Homo sapiens: one gene and its partners. The protein of the gene in region 2 interacts with the protein of the main gene of each other region in a pairwise test. Each region holds a gene or a part of one and is shown on either strand. Other genes may lie near its edges. The genes, in order: PLP1, JPH1, EMP1, TMEM120B, RSPH1 and UACA.

Region 1 (3,140 bases), on a different chromosome or scaffold from region 2:
TTTAAGTACTAAACCTTCCATCCAGTACTATCCAAATAAAACTAAATATTAGTCACGTATGAATTACTAAGGGATCATTACTGGAATATCCAAACAATTTAAAGAGAAGGTAACAATAACTTAAATCTAAATGCACCGGGGACTGGGGCACCACTAAGGTATTGAAAAAGTAACCATAGTTGACTCTGAACATTCTGAAACCCAACTTCGAAGAGAAAAGAAACCTTTAAGTAGGCAATAAATTGGTTTCAATATCTGCGTTTTAACACAAGCTCAGACATGTACTTACTGGATTTCTTTGGGCAAATTACTTTGCTTCTATTTCTTAGTGTCTTCAACTATAAAAGTAGAAGTAATCTATTCATATACTATTTATTTCAGAGAAATGTTATGAGAATGACTTGGATGAGCTGAAAAATGAATGATCTCCTTGAACAAGGTACGATTATTAAGTTTCTATTGTGAAGTCAAATAGAACAATTCACTCAAAGGACACGATGTTTGATTGAGAACATTCTTAATTTTATTTTCTTTAATTTTATAAAATACACTTTGTAAGATAAGTTTCTAAAAGTTTATCCTTTATGTGTGTTAAAATTGCAATTCTATATCAGAAATGAAGGAAACACTTTCAGTTGATTAACTCTCTTTGTGTGTGTATATATGTGTATGTATGCATGTGAGGTTTTCAGGGAAGGGTTGGTTATTTGTTATGTTATTAAATCAAAACAAAACACAAGGTACGGATTACTTCACTGTCCTTTATCTTGATTGGTTTCTTACAAAACATTTTCCCTCTCCTCCTTCTATGCAGCCTGGAAGCTTATCTTGTATACTGGTTTGAAAACAAGTATCAAGTGTCTTTTTGTAAAGCTCTTACATCTCCTTAAATATTGCTGAAACCACTTTGGGGGAAAAGAACAACACAACTCTTTACAACAAAAGAACTGTAGTACAAATCTTTCCTTCAATTAAAACCAATCAGACTTTTTTTTTTTTTAACCCAAAGTTAACAAAAACAGGAAAAGACTGAAATCTGGGAGCTATTCAGGTCTCAAACTCTTTCTGCCTGTCCTTTTTCCTGGAAGCTTACCAACTGAATAGCTGATGACTGGTGCATTCTGTTATGTGATCTATATCAGGAGAAAATAACCTTTATGTTAAACCTAACTCTTAACACACCAAGATAACATTGCTAAGTAAAATCATTTTCCATTAGCTAGAAAGAACGATCAGATTACTCAAATTGAGATTCAAATTCACCAAATCTGTTTCTGCAAAGGCAGAATACTTGTAGAAAATCCCAATAGATTCAACTAGCCAATTTTTAATATCATTTGTGATGCTTAATGTCCAATTTTCCTAGTTTAAAAAACAGTCATAATCAAAGAATTATTCTCCAGACATTTCTGATGCAACCCCAAATAAGTAATAAACAAACTGGAATACATGAAATGTGCATCATTCTAAAACAAATCAAGACCTTCAAATCACCTACGATGACTGAATGGATAATACCCCATGAAATGAGCACCATTGTGAAGATATGACAGAGGCCAGAGTACACAACTAATTAACAGAAAAAAAGACATGCTATCCAAAGAGTTATCTATCCTGTGTCTACCAGAGGGCCATCTCAGGTTACACCATTAGCCACCAGCAACTGCTGCTCCTCAGGCCAGTCTGTTCTCATGTAAGCTAGTTTCCTTCTATTCTCAGCTCCTTGGAAACCACAGGGTTGTCATGGTAGCTGTTATCAAGGAGAAGGGAGTGAGAAGATGCTGACAACACCCTGTTTCTCTTCCCTAACGAGGTGTAAGGCCAGATGCCCCCTTCGTCTACACAGATTCTACGCTCCCTTATGCTGTAAGTAAGGTTGGCTGAGTTAGGGCTTCAGTAGTCCATCGCCATCGGGGTCAGTGCTCTCTTTCTGTGGGTGAAAGATCCTTGCTTTGACCCCCTTCTCCCAGCTGCAATAGGCAGATTTGGGCAAACGCTCTTATTGTTTTTCTGACATTCTTTTTTCTTCTATCTTCAGTGGTAATAGAGAGACCAGAATGAATTCCATTTTGTACACCAAAGAGAATATATTTGGCCCCTATAGATGGCAAGAGGACCAAAGACATTCCTTCTCTGTACCTGAGCATCTTTCCTTCCACTTTGTTTCCATCAGTGGAAGTACCCTTTGAGAAGAAATTACTTTCTGATCCTCAGGAGATGCTTGAAAATTCAATTAGAGCCTCCATTCCTTTGTGACTTGCAGTTGGGAAGTCATCTTCTTAGGCATTTCCCATTTCTAGCAGGAACCAGCTATGAAGCAAAATGACTAAAAGAGGTACATAAGAGGGGAGAGTCCAAAGAGAGACCTTAATCACTGCAAGACTCTCCTTTCTTGTTACACTCATCAAGTAAGAAGAGGGCCAGTTGGTGGCAAAGGCAAAGAGTTAAGATGGGAGACGCAGCATTGTAGGCTGTGTGGTTAGAGCCTCGCTATTAGAGAAAGGGGGATTTCTACGGGGGATCAGAACTTGGTGCCTCGGCCCATGAGTTTAAGGACGGCAAAGTTGTAAGTGGCAGCAATCATGAAGGTGAGCTGTAGGGAACAGAAGAGAGAATGTGAATGAGAGTAGAAAAGAAAGCACTCCCTCCTCAAATCCCTTTGGGAATGAGGAAGGGTAGAAATAAAATCATAACTAAATAAGGGAAAAACCCATGCTCTGCAAAAAGCAGTACATCCCAGGCTTGGCTTTCTCCATATACACTTGACTGGAAGTCCGATGTCTCTGAGGCATCATGGGTCTCATGGCCCAGGCCCAGAGAATCAAATCATAAAGATTTATTCCACACCTCTGTTTGATCTAGCACTGAGTTTTCCTCAGGGAAGTGAACAATATTTGGGCTTTGCCACATCAATATGTCCGAGTGACTTAGAGTCATAGGGTGCTTGCTGTAGACACACAGCCACATCATGCAGTAGAGCTCTCCCCTGGTTAATGAATCAATTCGTTTTACAAGGTGAGAAATTACTTGACTCTGTATGGAAACCTCAGCAGTAGGGGCCAGGAGTTCTGTGAGCTCATCTTGTCTGATCACTGCTTATAAAATAACTTCAGATAAATCACTTCACCCTTCAGTGCCTT
Region 2 (3,500 bases):
CTCAAAAAATTATCTTTTTTTCCTTTAAGAGATTGTCACTCATATTTAAAACTGTAAGGAATTTTCTGCTAGAAGAGTTACTATGGTTTATGTGAAATCTAAAGCTTCTCTAGCTAGAAACACAAGAGAAGAACAAAGTTTAATTAAGTATTAACAGCAAAGTTTAATTATATATATTTACCTCTTTCGGGGGTGAGGTTCAAACCCAATTTGATGGGGACGCTTTAAATTTTACACAAATTCAAAAGAAAGATTAGATGAACCTCAAAACAAACTTGGATGCAAATCACAGGAATGGCTGAGAAAAAAGTGTAGTCATTTTTCAGAATGGGCTGAGATACCTAATTGGAAAATTCCCCTCTTGTCTACTTGATGGTAAGACGCTAAAGATGCCTCTTCTGACCCTACCAGAGTTGTCATGTTGCAAAACTCTACAAAAATTTCGGGATCACATTGAATGCGTGCCCCTAGGACATGAGTCCATACGCAACCATTGCCCACAGGGGTCACAAAAGTTTCTTGAGGAAAATCTTCCTCAAGAAAGTAATCAATGCCACAGCCTCCCTTCTCCTACCTCTCATACTCGAGTTAACTAATTTCCTGTGTTAGTCTCCATCCCAGGAGATTTTCTGTATTTCTAGGAGATCAATAGCCAGGGTGATCCTGAGGATGGATCAGATCTACTTGAATATTTCTGAACTGCTTATGCTTCAGTTAGCATTGTGTTGAAACAAACATCATAATAGCCAAGGTTTTTTGAGCATTTATTCTGCGCTAGGCACTATGCTAAGAACTTTTAAAGTATTGACTCATTTAATCTTCACAACAACCCTGTGATAGGTACAGATGAGGAAACCAAGGCACAGAGCAGTTAGGAAACTGTCCAGGGTCACACAGCTGGTAAGCAACAGAGCTGGGATGTGAACCGAGGAAGTTCAGCAACAGAGTTCAATTCTGTGAATTTTAAAATTATTCACGAATGTCTAACTTATACAGTGTCTTTCTCTCAAAACTATGTAGTACTCCATTATCTTAAAGGTCATCCACTGACAACATTTATGATGACTGTGCCACTTCCTAACTCTGAGGAGTGGGGACGGCAGCGTTCTGTTACTATTGGGAAGACAATGTTAATTATTAGAATCTTCGCGTGAAGGTGTCAAGTCGGTCTTGAATTTTGCAGAGGCAGTCTAAAGCTCAGGGTAGCTGCGGAGCTGCTGGGGCTTCCCTTCCCCCTTGGGGTGTAGAGGGGTACCCTAAGGACCAACTACTGAGATGGAGGATGCTTGTCTAACTCCAAGAATCTGAGAATTCCGCAAATAAGTAAAACAGATGTTTTTTCTAAATGAGGAGGCTGTGAATTTACCAAACATACGTATACTACTGTTTTACAGAGAGACTCTTTCAGCTAAGAGCTGGGTAATTCAACTTTTTTTTCCCCCTATCACAGCCTAATGTATAGGACGCTGGGGCATACACTTCCCCTTGTAGAAGTCTAGAAGTCAACTAAAGCCCACAAATGGGTACCCAAAGGTATAAAAGGTATGGCCTTGCATTGTTTGAATTTTTCCCTGTGTAAATCAGGCAAACTAACACTGATATATGCGAGGCCTTATTAACCTGGGGATAAACATGCTGAAAGTCAAATGAGAAGTAAGCTATTACATTTAACAAATTCAATAGTGATTATTATAGTTGTAATGTCAAGATACTGTCATATTAAGGTTTAAAATCTTTAAAATGAATGCTTACTGAAGAGTCAGAATCTTAAAGTTAGTCTGTTTTGAAAACAATTTTTCTCCATGCAGGTGGACTCCTAGGAAGTTGGTCCAGTTAATCTGAATAATTTATGTTTAGCTAATTAAAAAGTTGAAAATTTGAAAAAAGAAGAGAACCAGTGTTTTATAGATATTAGCAAAATAAACACACAAGAAATTTTAAGCATAAGTTAACAGAGGAATTTTAATTGTTTAATCCTGTGAGTAAATCAAACAGACAAAAATAAGAAACTGATGGCTGTACTATATTCTTGTTGGCCAAGATATTAATCCACACCATTATGCAAATATGTCTCTATAATTTCTAGTGAATACTAGGTGTGTAACTTTCAACACCTCTGTTCTAAAGGGATGTGATCAGGTCAAGAGGTCATTTTTTAATCAATAATTAGCTTCAGATTTTATAAATACTATAGCATTTGATAAAACACTAATTCCATACATTATTCAAAAAATCTCCTTTTAAAGAAGGTATAAAGATTTTTCAATAACACAGAGCTTTTCTGGCTGAATAATAAATAAATATCTTAAATGCTTAAGACTAATTGATACTAATAACCTGCATCTACCAGAAAACTGAAATTGTAAGAGTTCTCACACTTTGAAAAGACAGAAGACCAAAGAAATTCTCTTGAACTGTTGGAAATTTTCAGTTCTCTTTTGGGAAAGAAAAATGTTCTAGCTGCAAAGCCTGGCTAATTAAAGTCCAAACTACGTATGTATGAGAAGAATTCACAACGGCTAGAGGAGACGTTCTTTTGTGTAAAGATGCTGACCGCTGTGGTGAAAACAGGAGAACTAAGAACTTGTTGGTGCCCTTTTCCTAGAGCTCTGAGAGCGGCTGGCCCTTGGCAGGGGTCATGATTCCTTTCCAGCAATCAGAGAGCAAGCTACCAGGAAGCTCACCAAGACACGCTGTTAAAGCCTTGCTAAAATGTGCTAAGATGCTGTGCTAAGCTGGTCAGGTCTTACCTACCTGAATTACATCTAAAGTGGGGCTGGGTGAACATAGGGGTGGTGGGGGGAATTTCTGCCCAGAGAGCTCTTTGCTGTCTCAAGCTACCAATGTGTTATGTGCTGCTCTAAACAACCCTGTGCTTCTAGAACCTTGGTTAGCCTGGCTGTGATCAAGATGCACAGTCACCCCACACAGCTCGCTGAAAGAAACAAAGGGAAGAAAGAAAGAGAAAACGCTACTTGCAGTACTTACTGAATTGGCTTCTTTTTCCAAAGCAGGGCATGAATCGTTGCTTGCTGGATTCTTTGGTATAGCAAGTTCAGACTTCTTAGCTTTTGGCTCAGCTTTGCTTTCTTTGGCAACTGGTTTTGTCACAGATTTGGAGGGACTCCACTTGTTAGCGGATGGCTTGTGCACCAGTGCTGAGGAAGACTGGCTGGATCCATCGCCGTCCTCCACGTCTACTGGAGGGTGCTGGGGGGCGTTCAGCTTCACGTAGTAGCCGTGATACTGAGAATGCAGCTCCCCGTTACTGGGGTTGGGGATGTGGTGGCGGCCAGAGTACTTGGACTGGGGCACAACCGCTCCTGCCTCCTTCGTGGGAGCCTTTGACATCAAGGGCTTATTGACAATGGCCGTCACCTGCTCATCAGCCACACTCCTTTTGTCTTGGTTGAGTCTCGCCCCTGAGCTGGGGTTTTGCTTCTTCAGGGGCTTTGGGGAGGAAGCAGGAGAGTGGCTGTGTTTGGGACTTGCCTCAGGAG
Region 3 (3,500 bases), on a different chromosome or scaffold from region 2:
GTTTGGGAAGAAAACCTAGGTGTGGCCCGGCCCCAGCGGCGCTTGGGTGGGACCAACAGTAGATGGCGGCAACATGCTTCAACCAGCAAAGCTGCAGCCTCCTGGAAGGCGGCAAGCTGGGAGGGGAGGCCCCTCGCCTAGAGACACCCCAGACCCATCAGGTGGGCTCAGGGCTTCATTTCAATTCGTTCTTTAGAGGTTGAGAGGCATTGAGGTCATTCAGTCCAACCCCTTGATAAGAAGGAAATGCACGTCCCCAAAGGAGAAATGGAATTGAATCAGAACTGAAGCCATTTCGCACCTTCCAGGCAGGGCTCTTCCACCTGGCATGATTTTTTCTCTCCTGTCTCTTGGCTTAGGGTTTGGTGGAAGTTCTAGAACTTCTACCAGATCTACTGTTCTCTCTTTTCCTCCTACCCTCTCTGAGTTAATCAGAGAGTCAGCATATACCCCTTAAAACTGTGCCAATTATAAAAACACAGGGTCTTCCGAGGCCACTGCTTCTCCCTGTCGTTTTGCTGAGAAGTCCCACCCAGCAGAGCCAGCCTGCCTGGCCAAAACAGACCCGAACAATATCCCCCTGCAAACTCCGAGCAACCTTCTAACCCTCAGCACAGGAGTCCCCACCCCACCCAGACATGGAGACTATCTTTCAATAAAGGGAAGCTCCAGGTCTCAGCTTCAGAGCTTTCTCTGAGATCAATGTGAACACACTGCCTTGCCCCAAACTAGTTGTTTCAGGGTTGCAAACCTCTGTCCAACTCCCCTTCTCCAGCGTCCTGGGGAAGGGTCTTTGATTCTTTGAAATGAGAAGTCTAAGGATCAAGAACCCCGTTTTGCTCTCAGCTCTGATCTGACCTGGAAGAGGAGAAACATTGAAGAGGTTCCAGCCTGGTGGGCACATGTAGTGGAAACTAAAATGATACCAAAGAGGTGTCAACCATCCTGAAAAAACAAGAAGTAGCCAATGCGACAAAAGATTCTTCACAGGGGACAAAGAATCGAATTTTGACCGAAGGACTGCCTTGAAACATTGAGGGTGGGTGGTCCCCAAACAAGAGTGGAAGGATGGAAGGGGAAACATCCTCATCACTTCTCCCTTGCTCTTTTGCCCCCTTTCTGTCTTTCTCTATCCACTTAGCTTTTTCTCCTGCTTCTAGGTCTTTCTGCCTGCCTCCTCCCTCAACACACAGGCCTGGGAAACAGCATCCCACTTGCCCTCCCTCCCTCCCTCCTGTCCTAGTTGCACCTTCCTCTTCCTCCTCTCAAACTGTTCCTCATTTGCTCCTGTCCACACCTGTACACCACACCTTCATGCTGCAGGGTCTCCCTCCTCAAGAAGAGGGTGGAGTTTCTTTCCCAGAGCCAGCTCAGTTTCTCCCTGAGCCTGATTCTGTTCCTGGTGAATGCTTTGCTGTTGTCAATGTCTTCACAGACTCAGCCTGCCCTCCTCATCTGAGCTGGCACCCTTTACGTTTAATTACTCAAACCTCTTTCTTTTATTCCTAGTGCCGAGTGAATGCTCATGGCTGAGGGTAAGTCCGGGGAACACCATACCTAAAGAATCTGTGAGTGGATGGGGCAGAGGAGGCTCCGTGGGTCCTCAAGGCACCCAGGAGACGAGAATCCTCTGCAAAATGCCCTTTTCAATGCCACACGTTGCCCTATTTCACTTTTCTATCAATTTTTACAGATTAAGCCAGCTGCTAGCATCAGCGCAAGGGATATCTCAAAATAGAAATGGTAGGATCTTAATTTTTTTGTTTTTCGTTTTTTTGGTGTTTTTGTTTGTTGGTTTGTTTTGTTTTTGTTTTTTTTGAGACAGGGTGTTGTTTCATTGCTCAGGCTGGAGTGCAATGGTACAATCATAGCTGACTACAGCCTCAAAGCCCTGGGGCTCAATCAATCCTCCTGCCTCAGCTTCCCAAGTAGCTGGGACTACAGGCATGCACTACCACACCCTGCTTTTTAAAATTCTTCTTTTAGAGACAGGGTCTCACTATGTTGCCCAGACTGGTCTCAAACTCCTAGGTTCAAGTGATCCTCCCACCTCAGTCTCCCAAGTAGCTGGGATTACCACGCCTGGGTGAATCTTAGAATCTCAGAGCCATAAGGGGTCTGAAAGAACCACCAAGTTCAACTTCCGAAAGCAAGAAGACAAGTGTCTCGCCTGTGGTTACATGGCAGCGTCAAGATAACACCACTGCCCCTCTGTCTTCCTAGTCAGCTGTCTTACATCTGCTCCAGGATTCTTGCCACGCTTTCAACCTGTGCTGAAAGGGCTCTCTAGTTTAACTACCCGGTTTGAAGAAACAATTCATGAAACAGGCTCAGCAAATAGAAAAACTGTCACAGCCACGTAAGTCCAAGCGCACCAACAGCAGAGGATTCCATTGCAGTTCCAGGGAAATGCCATCTCCACAACACAAAAGAAAACCTTGACCCAAACATTTTGTTAAAAAGGAAGAGAGAAGCAGCAATCACCACAGGTGTTTGTGCTTTCATCTTTCTGCTTTAGTATCAGTGAATCTCCCAGGTAAATTGAAGGAAATGGTTTTACCCAGGCAGGACACCAGGGACTGAATTGTTGCAAAGAGCAGTCTCAGGACGTGTGTATGTCGGGGCTGGGTGCTGAAGATTCAAGTAAACCCCTAACTGGAACCATATTTGGGCTTCCTTGATTACTGAATAGCAAGTGCAGTCCAGAAATTCAAGATCACCTGGGCGGATCTGGGAAGAGTATTAGAAAAGGGAAGCTTATGGTGAGAAAATTCCCGTTCTACGCTGGTTAAGGGTTAGGAGCTCTTCTCAAGGGGCTGATACCCAGATTGCTGGCCAGCAATTACAAGGAGGCTACATTTGATGGGCAGCCTGTTCCCGTAATTACTATGATGGGTGGTGACAATGTATAGGTGTGGGCTACATGAACTATGGACCAAATTATGGGACAATCCCCAAAAGGCCTAGCTAGAAGCCTGTGTCCTGGTATTGGATTGATCTAACCATGACCTAGTAGGTAGCAACACTGGGTGTGTCCCTCCGAGTATGTACATCTGAGAGTCCCAAATAGGCCTGAGCTTTTGTGTTAGGCAGCTATGTACATACATGTGGGAGGTTAAAGAAGGAACCATATTCATGCATTTAGAAAATTAAATACCTCCAAATCAAAAACCCCGTGAGTATGATTGACTATGTACATAATTCCAAACTTCAAAAATGCTCCCTGCCCTTCTGAGCCTTAGGCAAAAAAAAAAAAAAAAAGAAGAAGAAGAAGAAGAAGAAAAGATAATGCAATGTAGATCCATCAAGTTGTATTCATTAAATATTAAATAGGCGTTAAGTGTTTAGAGGATGAGAATCATTGGGTGGAGCAACAACAAAACCAGAATAGATATTTTCTGAGTTGTTTCAGGCCAGCAGAATCAGGAAGTTATAAGGAAGTTGATTTTGCTTGATTTAAGGAACTTTAATAAAATTAGAGTTGGCCTGCTAAGGGGAAT
Region 4 (3,500 bases), on a different chromosome or scaffold from region 2:
GAATTTCCATGATAGCACCAACTGTGGTCTTTATCACTCCTTTGCAAGTCTTTATACTTGGACTACATACAATGTATCATTAAGCAATATACTGTGTTGTTTTCAATGTTTTTGCCTTTATTGCAAGTGCCACATTGTACATACCCCTCTGCAACTTTCTGCAGGATGTTAACACAGGTAGCTCAGTTTATTCACTCTCCTGCTTCACCTCTCTCTGGGTGCTCAGTGTAATGATCCATTCCCACGGACGTTCAGGTTGCCAGTTTTTAGTTGTGTTATAAAAACTACTATGCATGGCTGCTACATGAATTTTTAACTGTGTGAATATGTATTACTTATAAAAATGTAGAATGGAGGCCGGGCACAGTGGCTTACGCCTCTAATCCCAGCACTGTGGGAGGCTGAGGTGAGCAGATCACAAGGTCAGGAGTTCGACACTAGCCTGATCAACATGGTAAAACCCCGTATCTACTACAAATAAAAAAATTAGCCTGCTGTGGTAGCACACGCCTGTAATACCAACTACTCAGGGGGCTGAGGCAGAAGAATCGCTTGAACCCGGGAGGCAGAGGTTGCAGTGAGCCGAGATCGTGCCACTGTATTCCAGCCTGGGCAACAGAGCGAGACTCTATCTCAAAAAAAAAAAAAAAAGGCCAGGTGTGGTGGCTCACGCCTATAATCCCAGCACTTTGAGAGGCCAAAGCGGGCGGATCACAAGGTCAAGAGATCGAGACCATCCTGGCCAACATGGTGAAACTCTACTAAAAATACAAAAATTAGCTGGGCATGGTGGCACATGCCTGTAGTCCCAGCTACTCAGGAGGCTGAGGCAGGAAAATCGCTTGAACCCGGGAGGCAGAGGTTGCAATGAGCTAAGATTGAGCCACTGCACTCCAGCCTGGGCGACAGAGCAAGACGCTGTCTCAAAAAAAAAAAAAAAAAAAAAAGTAGAACTGATTCCATTCAAAAAAAAAGGAGGGCCAGGGCTGAATGCAGTGGCTTATGCCTGTAATCCCAGCACTTTGGGAGGCTGGAGTGGGCGGATCACGAGGTTAGGAGTTCAAGACCAGCTTGGCCAACATGGTGAAACCCCATCTACTAAAAATACAAAAATTAGCTGGGCGTGGTGGTGCCTGCCTGCAATCCCAGCTACTCGGGAGACTGAGGCAGAAGAATTGCTTGAAACCAGAAGGCGGAGGTTGCAGTGAGCCAAGATGGCACCACTGCACTCCAGCCTGGGCAACAAGAGTGAAACTCTTGGTTGAAAAAAAAAAAGGAGGACCAGGCACTCATACCTATAGTCTCAGCACTTTGGGAGGCTGAGATGGGAGGAATGCTTGAGGCCAGAAGTTCAAGACCAGCCTGGGCAACATGACAAAACCCCATCTCTACAAAAATTACAAAACTTAGCCAAGTGTGGTGGTGTGTGCCTGTAGTCCCAGATACTCAGGAGGCTGAAGAGGGAGAATCACTTGAACCCAGGAAGTTGAAGCTGCAGTGATCCATGATGGGACCACTGCATTCCAGCCTGGGCGACAAAGTGAGACCCTCTCTTACAAAACAACAACAAAAAGGAGAACTGCTCACATGAGCTCTGTGAGCTGTCATGCCCAGAGCATCTTCCCTACTTGTCTAATTACCATCCTCCGCATGTAGAAGACACAAACAAGCAAGTTTCCTTTGGAAGATTCAGGGATCTCTGCCACCTCTGCTGTCCTCTGAGACCCAAGCTCTGCCCCAGTGGGAAGATGAGGTTAATGACTCCTGTTCCCAGTACAGATGTGAAACATCTGAAGACACCTCCTTAACACATCTTGGCTGTCGGAAGATCCAGGACTGGGGAGTCAACATGTGTTGCAGGAATTGCTAGAGGAATCTCACGGCATTTACAGACATGGTTCTGGCCCAGGAGCATCAGAAGTCGCTGGGCAGTCCAGTAGACTGCAATAGGGCCATACCGCCACTTAAGTGTGGTGCCTTAGAGCTGTGCCTCTTGCTGGTGGTAAACTTTCAAGAGATTCCTTTTTTTTTTCTTTTGAGACACAGTCTTACTCTGTCGCCCAGTCTGGAGTGCAGTGACACAATCATGGCTGCTCACCACAGCCTTCACCTCCCTGGGCTCAGGCGATCCTCCTCTCTCAACCACCCGAGTAGCTGAAACTACAGGCCTGTGCCACCATGCCTGGCTAATTTTTGTATTTTTTGTAGAGACAGGGGTTTTGCCATGTTGCCTAGGCTGGTCTCAAACTCCTGAGCTCAAATGACCTGCCTATCTTGGCCTCCCAAGGTGCTGGGATTACAGGCATGAGCCACTGTGCCTGGACAAGAGATTACTTTTATATAGCTCTAAGAAATCAACTTCAAATAGACTTTCAGACGCTGACTATACTTAACCAGGACTCATCACCATAGAAACACCACCAAGGATGACTTCGCCTAACGTGTATGCGTCCTGTGCGGGACAGATTCTGAGTCATGTGTCAGAATCCATGAACGGTATGTTACGGGAGCGGTAAGTGGGGGTCTGTGCGTGGGAGGCACGCATTTGGGTGGCATGAAAACACAATGGTTAAGTGATTTGATGCTGCCATCAAGTTGCCCGAGTTCAGATCCAGAGCCTGCCACTTATTAGCTGAGTTATGTAATCCCTCTGTGCCTCGGTGTCATCAGCTGTGAAAGAGCTAGGAGATGAGGTGCATGCAGCAGGCTAGGCACTGTCACAAAGATGTGACATCATCAAGAATGTAGTGTGGGCCGGGCAAGGTGGCTCATGCCTATAATCCCAGCACTCTGGGAGGCCGAGGTGGGCAGATCACCTGAGGTCAGGAGTTCGAGACCAGCTGGCCAACATGGTGAAACCCTGTCTCTACTAAAAATACAAAAATTAGCCAGGTGTGGTGGCATGTGCCTGTAGTCCTAGCTACAGCTACTCAGGAGGCTGAGGCAGGAGAATCACTTGAACCCGAGAGGCAGAGGTTGCAGTGAGCCGAGACAGAGCCATTGTACTCCAGCCTGGACAACAAGAGCAAAACTCCGTCTCAAAAAAAAAAGAATGCAGTGTGGCCTAACATGCAACTGTGAACCACCCCCTTAAACTACCCCCGTTAGCAATTTAAGCAGTGTCCAATCGATGCCACTGTTTCCCTTGAAGAAAAAAACATTTTTTGAGACAGGGTCTCACTCTGTCACCCAGGCTGGGGTGCAGTGGCAGGATCTCAGCTTACTGCAACCTCCACTTCCTGAACTTAGGTAATCCTCCCACTTCAGCCTCCCAAGTAGGTGGGACCATGGGTGCACGCCACCATGCCTAGCTAATTTTTGTGGTTTTTTGTAGAGTCAGGGTCTTACTACATTGCCCAGGCTGGTCTCAAACTCCTGGGCTCAAGCGATCTACCTGCCTCAGCCTCCTGTTGGGATTACAGGCATAGGCCACTACACCCAGCCAACAATTTCTATTAGCCCCCCAAAAGGTGCCTGTCCAGCATCCCTCTCTCTGTTTT
Region 5 (3,500 bases), on a different chromosome or scaffold from region 2:
TTGAGGCAAGGATGCCTTTCTGTGCAAGTGTAGACTCAAGTATCTGACATCTGCACCTCAGTTGGGGCAGAGCACGTGAGTCTTTCACCCAAGAGTCCCAGGGAGTGGAGGGCACAGAAGAGCCACTGGGGGACCTGAGCCACAGCTCCCACTAGCTCTGCCTCTTCCCTGGGGAAAGCAGCTGACACACAGGAGGCTTGCCTCTGTCCAGCTGGCCTGTCCTCTGTGCCTCTGGCAATGTCCTGTGCTTGGGGCACACTGAGCAAGGGGCACCTTCTGACTGGACACAGATATAGAAGCTACATCGCTTGTGAGCCTGCAACAGCCTGGGCCTCCCTCAATGTCAATGTCTGTGTTTTAAACCTGGGAGATTTTTCACTGTGCTGGAACGAAATACCATGTTCCCCTTGTCTTAACCAGGCATGGGCAAGGCACCTATTTATACGCGGAGACGGGCAGTAAGTATGTTGGCACCTGGGTGAACGGACAGCAGGAGGGCACGGCCGAGCTCATTCACCTGAACCACAGGTACCAGGGCAAGTTCTTGAACAAAAATGTAAGTCCATGGGAAGTGACATTTGCCAATGAAGTACAAAATAACCCCCTCTGGCAGCCTGTGCAAATGTGTGACCAGAGAATACCAAAAACTCAGAGAAAACTGAGTCCGGCCTATTCAAATGTGGAGAACAGGACAGCTGTGCCATTCTCTGAGCCTCTGGTACCCACAGAGCACAGAATTGGGGGAAGGGAGGGATTGGCCCGTTTCTCTGGATCTCAGTACAAATTCCCACTGTCTTTCAGCGGGGACCTGTTGCATTGTTATATAACACGAGAGGGCATCTGAACCTCTTGTGTGTATTCCTTCTCATGGGTAAATCAGATACCAAATATCTATTTCCTGCAATTGAGCATAGAGGTGTTTGGGTTTTGTTTCCCTGGAAGGGGAGGTGCGACATCCCTGGGGAGGAAGACCCCCAGCTCCCTCCTCATGCTACAGGCCAGCCTGCGTGCTCCTAGTTGTGGTGGGAATTAAGGCTGCCAAGGGCCTGGCCCTGCGTCTGGAGGCTTGCCAGCTTCTAGCACCCATGGTGGGCCGTTTCTGTTTGGAAGACTCGGTGGTTCCTCTTGCCCTTATTGTACAGAGAAACCTTGAATAATTCAGAAGCTAATACTCAGGCCATCGTGGTAGCTTTGATCAGGGGTTGAGCAGAAACTTTCCCTGAAGAGAGAATTTGCGGAGCAAATTGATGGTGTTAGAAGTTGACAGAGGGAATGTTTAGCTGATACAACGAAGTCTCTTCAGACTCTCTTAGAACCCAGTTTTCATTTACGTATAATTCATGCCCTAACCACAGATTTTACTTTTAGTCTTCATCAAAACAGCACATTCCCCTCAAACCCATACATTGTTTATATAATTCCCAGCAAACTTTCTGTGGGTCTTTTTGGAGGAGATGGGAAGGTGGTTGCAGAGGAAGAGAATTTGATGAAAATGAATCTGGAAGAATCAATCAGCTTGTCCAGCCTAAACCAGTCTGAAAAATCGGGGTAAAAATGGAGGCTTTGTTTTGCTAGTTAGTAAAAAACTTTAAATTATACAAATAATACACAAGTACATTCCAATTGTAAAGCATTTAAACACTAGGATCCTGCCCCACCACCCTGGGCCCAATCCTTCCACACTATTTCTGTGTGTCATGTAAGCACATTCTAATACAGTCATCTGACACAGAATTATTGTTTGGGGGTTTTAATTACATAATTAGGATCATACTGTGTCAGGATACAAAAATATACATAAAGATACATATTTGTCATTTTGCACATTTGGGACTATTGTGTAGGTTAGATAATGGAATTGTGAAACCTTTGAGGATTGGCATTTAGAATCACAATCGGTAGTGCCCATTTTCCTAAAAAGTGGTGTCAGTTTATACTCTTGCCAATAGAATATGAGTCTGTTTATCATATATTCTCATCGATGTTGGATATTCTCAGTCTTTAATGTTGTTTTTGTTCTTTTCCAATCTTATGGGTAAAAAATGTCATCTCATTGTTTTAATGTGTACTTCCCTGATTACTAGTGAGGTCAAACATCTTGTCACATGTTTATTGCTGGTTTGTGTTTCTTCCTCAGAAAATTCCCTGTACATGTCCTTGTGGACAAGTTATCAATACCACAAAACTTCAATAATTAAAACAGTGTGATACCAGGATACACACACACACACACACCAATGAAGCAAATTAGGAAGTCCAGAGACAGTTCCCAGTATATAAAATAATTTCACACACAATAAGCGTGTCAAATTAACAAAGGGATGATGGGAGGAGTCAAGACATAGTGCTAGGAACACTTGACAATTATTTGGGAGGAAAATAATAGTTTTGCCTTCACACAGATGAAGATACTTTCTAGAAGAAGTAAAGATTTAAATGTACCCTAGGAAATATAGAAAAAAAATGTAGATGAATATTAACCTTGAAATGAGGAAAGAGAACTTTCTAAACAGAAATAGAAAGGAAAAACCAATAGGTTTAGCTTTATAAAAATAACTTCTTATAGATTAGAAAATGCTGTAAAGAAAATCTAAGAGATGACTGTTAAATGGGGAGAGAATATTTGCAACATTTAATATATAAAGTGTTTTATCAATCAATGTGATTTAAATGGCTAAAAATCTTGAAAAAAATGCAGGCTTACTAACAACTGAAATGAAGTGAATTAAAATTGTGAGACCCTGTTGTTTTATATAAAAAAACATGTAAAAATAGACCATTTTTACACTCCTAAAATCAAGAGTTTGAGGATCTGGGACTCTTAAGTGCAGTTATGGGAATGAAACGATTAGAGCCTCATCTAATCAAAGCACATGTATGCTTTTGTCCAGAAATTCTGAGAATTTAAGGATGGTATCAAAAGCGTACATAAAGTTTTAACTCAGAGTACGTTTGCTGGAGCGTTCTTTGTAAAAAAAAAAAAAAAATCAGTATCCCAAATACCAACAATAGTAACTGAGTAAAATAGGTTGCAATCCATAGATGAAATAAAGTACCAGGTGGCAACTGTTATTAGGAAAGAATATTTGTAAATACGGGAAGTAGTTCATGCCATATTTCTCAGTAAAAATAGAGTATGAGTTAGTATGTATAATTATGATCAGATTTTTATTTAACCATGTATACTAGAAGCAAAGTTACAAAGAATGCATCAAAATATTAGTAGTAGTTCCATCGGTAGCTAGTTTGCCTATGGATACTGATTCACTGAGGTTTTCTGAAAATGAATACATCACTTTTATAAAAAAGTAAAATGTGGTTAAAGTTTCCAAAAGTAAACAAAACAGGGCATATAAGTTCCAATCCCATCAGCCACGAGTTCACAAAAGCATTCCTTAATCCATGTTACACTTTACCCAATTTGGTGATTTGAGGTGGGTATTGTGGTGGTGACATTTGTATTTTGTATTTTCTGCTGGGTGTTGACACTTAAGAATGGT
Region 6 (3,500 bases), on a different chromosome or scaffold from region 2:
TCTCTAATACAGATTTTCTGCTATTTCCCCACTTGAACTTCCTATTCACTGTCCCTCAATAATCTTCTCTAATAATTGCAATAAACTTTAAGATTCTAGTTTATCTCTGATTTGCTCAAAAGAGAGTAGCTAAGATCCCTTGTTCTATCATATCATTCATTCTTTTTCATTAGTTTCCCCTCCATTTCCTATAGAAGAGGCAGGTCTATTGATTTTAAGAATTTGATATCATAAAGTATCTTTCTTTTTATTATTTTATCTAGTTCTCTTTTTAAAATTGTTCTTTTTTTGAAGCTTTCTCTCAACATCCATCTTTCCCTTCTTCATTTTTTGTTTGTTTTTTTTTTTTTTTTTTTTTTTTTTTGCTTGTTTTTACAGTGTGGCCTAACATACTTCAAATCCAAATAATTCCCAGGATCTCTGTCATTCTAAAATTTGTTTCTTTTAGTACATTTTCTTCCTGAAAAAAAATCTATTCTGAGAATTTTGAAGATGCTGCTCACGGGGTTTCTACAGGAAATTAAGCATAGTATCCTTTATATGTTAGTAATTTCTTAGTATGATTTTAACAATAACTTTCTCAGTACACCCCTAAAAAAGGGAATTCATACTGTTATTCCTTAATTAATCCTTGGCTTTACCAAGCCAAGTTAAGGCTTGGTAAAACAGATCATTTTTAATTACTACAATCCTATACACATAACACCCTGCTTGTCACTTTTGTACTTTTCTAGTATTCAAAGCCATTCCCACTCTCCTCTTAGATGACAGCCACACGTGGATGTCAAGGCATTATCTCCAGCTAGCAACACCATTAACGTGTGCTACCATCACATGTTACCAAACTGTCTATAAACTGAGTGACAAGCAGATGGAGACGACACTAAATTTAAGATGTTGTGTTGCCATATAGCTTTGTAAATTTTTCTGGGAGATCCACAAACAATGATTAAAAGAAACATAATTATTTTTAAATAAGCATAGGGGGTGCAGCTACTTTAAACATCAATTACTTTCACATAAATTTATTTGAAAATAAAAAATTATTATCTCTAAAGCAATATTCTTTCCAAAGGAGAAGTAGTTCTTTACCTGTGCAGCACTAAGAAGGTGTGTCCGATAAATTGCAATTACTTCTTGGTGCTGTCTGTCAGCATCCTAGAAATGTGGAAAGATGGACAGATGTGACTATCAGCGTTCACATTTCCAAACTTTGGACAATGCTCAGGCTTCATGCTACAAAACTATTATTATTATTAAGGCGATCCTGCTACTTCTAACAACAAACTACCTTGGACCTACCAGATGCAGAATTTCAAAACGTAACAATATAAACTTCTGTAAAGAATGTGTGGCTAATGACAGTAATGCTACTTTCCCTAAGCAACATCAAATTATTGCTTTAGTTCATATCTAGTGCCATGAACTTCTGAAGACACTTATCACATGTCTGGATTATTGCAAACGCTTCCCATCCTGTCTTACTATCTCCACACTATATTCCTTACCATGCCTCTGAGACTAAGGTACCTATTTCCTCACATCACTTTTGGCTCAAAAACCTTGAGTGACACTTCTTTACATACATGAGAGAATCCAAATTCATCAGTTTGGTTCTCAATGACTTCCACAGTTTGGCTTCAAACATTAACTTTCAAATACAGCAGTCCCCTCTTATTGGCAGTTTTGCGATGAGCAGTTTCACTTTCTCTATTTCTGTTGCCCATGGTATAATACAATATTTTGAGATATAGAGAGAGACCACATTCACATAACTTTTATTACAACATATTGTTATAATTGTTCTATTTTATTATGTTGTTATTAATCTCTTACTGTGCCCAATTTATAAATTACTCTTTATCACAGGTATGTATATCTGGGGGGAAAACATAGCTTATATAGGGTTCATTCAGCAGGTCCTATCCATGGTTTCAGGCATCCACTGGGGATCTTGGAACATACCCTCAGTGGATAAGAGAGGGACTACTCTACAGGCAGGGCTTTTACTGCCCTCTGGCCATGCCACTTGTATTCCATCTCCACGCTTCTTTTACACTATTTTCTTTAGATGGAAGAGCCTCTACTTTCCTTTCACCTACCAAAATAGCATCTACGTTACAAGTTCAAGCCAGGTACTCCCTTCTTTAAAAACTAGCTTCTACCACACCACTAATCTTTCCTTCCTGGAAACCCCTATCACTTAGAATCTGCATTCTCAGTTCTACATTTGACATCTCTCATCTTGTGATTTTTACTTTTTATGAATCTGTATTTTGCCTCTCTAACTACCCAGAACTCCTTGGGGACAGGAATGGCATACTTTCTTTATCCCACTTAGCACAGGGTCATGAACATAATAAACAATAAACAAATATTTCCAATTATTAAAGGGACACTATACTCTTTGGATAAGATCCAAATCCACAATTTGCCATCCTTAATCTGTAGGCCTACAGTGTTAAAAAATAAACACTAAAAAAGAAACAAAACAAAAAACCTTTCTTCTATTAAAAAATAACTCAAACAATTCTATGAAATAGGGAAACATCAGCAACAATTTACATGTGACTGGGCCGTTTTACTTAGCATTTCAATGTGTATTAGTGCATAATTAAAAGCATAGTCCCAGATACTCAGGAAGCTGAGGCAGTAGGATCACTTGAGCCCAGGAGATCAGCCTATAGCAAGACCCCATTGGAGACAAGCCTAAGCCACATAGAAGACCCCATCTTTTGACAAAATTCAACAACTTTTCATGCTAAAAACTCTCAATAAATTAGGTATTGATGGGACGTATCTCAAAATAATAAGAGCTATCTATGACAAACCCACAGCCAATATCATACTGAATGGGCAAAAACTGGAAGCATTCCCTTTGAAAACTGGCACAAGACAGGGATGCCCTCTCTCGCCACTCCTATTCAACATAGTATTGGAAGTTCTGGCCAGGGCAATCAGGCAGGAGAAGGAAATAAAAGGTATTCAATTAGGAAAAGAGGAAGTCAAATTGTCCCTGTTTGCAGATGACATCATTGTATATCTAGAAAACCCCATCATCTCAGCCCAAAATCTTCTTAAGCTGATAAGCAACTTGAGCAAAGTCTCAGGGTACAAAATCAATGTGCAAAAATCACAAGCATTCTTATACACCAATAACAGACAAACAGAGAGCCAAATCATGAGTGAACTCCCATTCACGATTGCTTCAAAGAGAATAAAATACCTAGGAATCCAACTTACAAGAGATGTGAAGGACCTCTTCATGGCAAACTACAAACCACTGCTCAATGAAATAAAAGAGGATACAAACAAATGGGAGAACATTCCATGCTCATGGGTAGGAAGAATCAATGTCATGAAAATGGCTATACTGCCCAAGGTAATTTATAGATTCAATGCCATCCCCATCAAGCTACCAATGACTTTCTTCACAGAATTGGAAAAAACTACTTTAAAGTTCATATGGAACCAAAAAAGAGCCTGCATCGCCAAGTCAA

Evidence for each region.
Region 1: the proteins of JPH1 (region 2) and PLP1 interact in binary tests that used the Homo sapiens proteins (3 or more experiments, as listed by UniProt).
Region 3: the proteins of JPH1 (region 2) and EMP1 interact in binary tests that used the Homo sapiens proteins (3 or more experiments, as listed by UniProt).
Region 4: the proteins of JPH1 (region 2) and TMEM120B interact in binary tests that used the Homo sapiens proteins (3 or more experiments, as listed by UniProt).
Region 5: the proteins of JPH1 (region 2) and RSPH1 interact in a two-hybrid assay, tested with the Homo sapiens proteins (one large-scale study listed by BioGRID and IntAct).
Region 6: the proteins of JPH1 (region 2) and UACA interact in a two-hybrid assay, tested with the Homo sapiens proteins (one large-scale study listed by BioGRID and IntAct).

The regions. Positions count from the first base shown.
Region 1 is NC_000023.11:103,789,980-103,793,119, reverse strand, and holds the end of PLP1 (myelin proteolipid protein), read right to left. Parts: intron 2,594-3,140; coding exon 2,522-2,593; 3' UTR 501-2,521; downstream 1-500.
Region 2 is NC_000008.11:74,241,541-74,245,040, forward strand, and holds part of JPH1 (junctophilin-1), read right to left. Parts: coding exon 2,989-3,500; intron 1-2,988. UniProt on the Homo sapiens protein: Junctophilins contribute to the formation of junctional membrane complexes (JMCs) which link the plasma membrane with the endoplasmic or sarcoplasmic reticulum in excitable cells.
Region 3 is NC_000012.12:13,199,726-13,203,225, reverse strand, and holds part of EMP1 (epithelial membrane protein 1), read right to left. Parts: intron 1-3,500.
Region 4 is NC_000012.12:121,719,252-121,722,751, reverse strand, and holds part of TMEM120B (transmembrane protein 120B), read right to left. Parts: intron 1-3,500. UniProt on the Homo sapiens protein: Necessary for efficient adipogenesis. Does not show ion channel activity.
Region 5 is NC_000021.9:42,482,725-42,486,224, reverse strand, and holds part of RSPH1 (radial spoke head 1 homolog), read left to right. Parts: intron 1-420; coding exon 421-556; intron 557-3,500.
Region 6 is NC_000015.10:70,659,059-70,662,558, forward strand, and holds part of UACA (uveal autoantigen with coiled-coil domains and ankyrin repeats), read right to left. Parts: intron 1,159-3,500; coding exon 1,093-1,158; intron 1-1,092. UniProt on the Homo sapiens protein: Regulates APAF1 expression and plays an important role in the regulation of stress-induced apoptosis. Promotes apoptosis by regulating three pathways, apoptosome up-regulation, LGALS3/galectin-3 down-regulation and NF-kappa-B inactivation.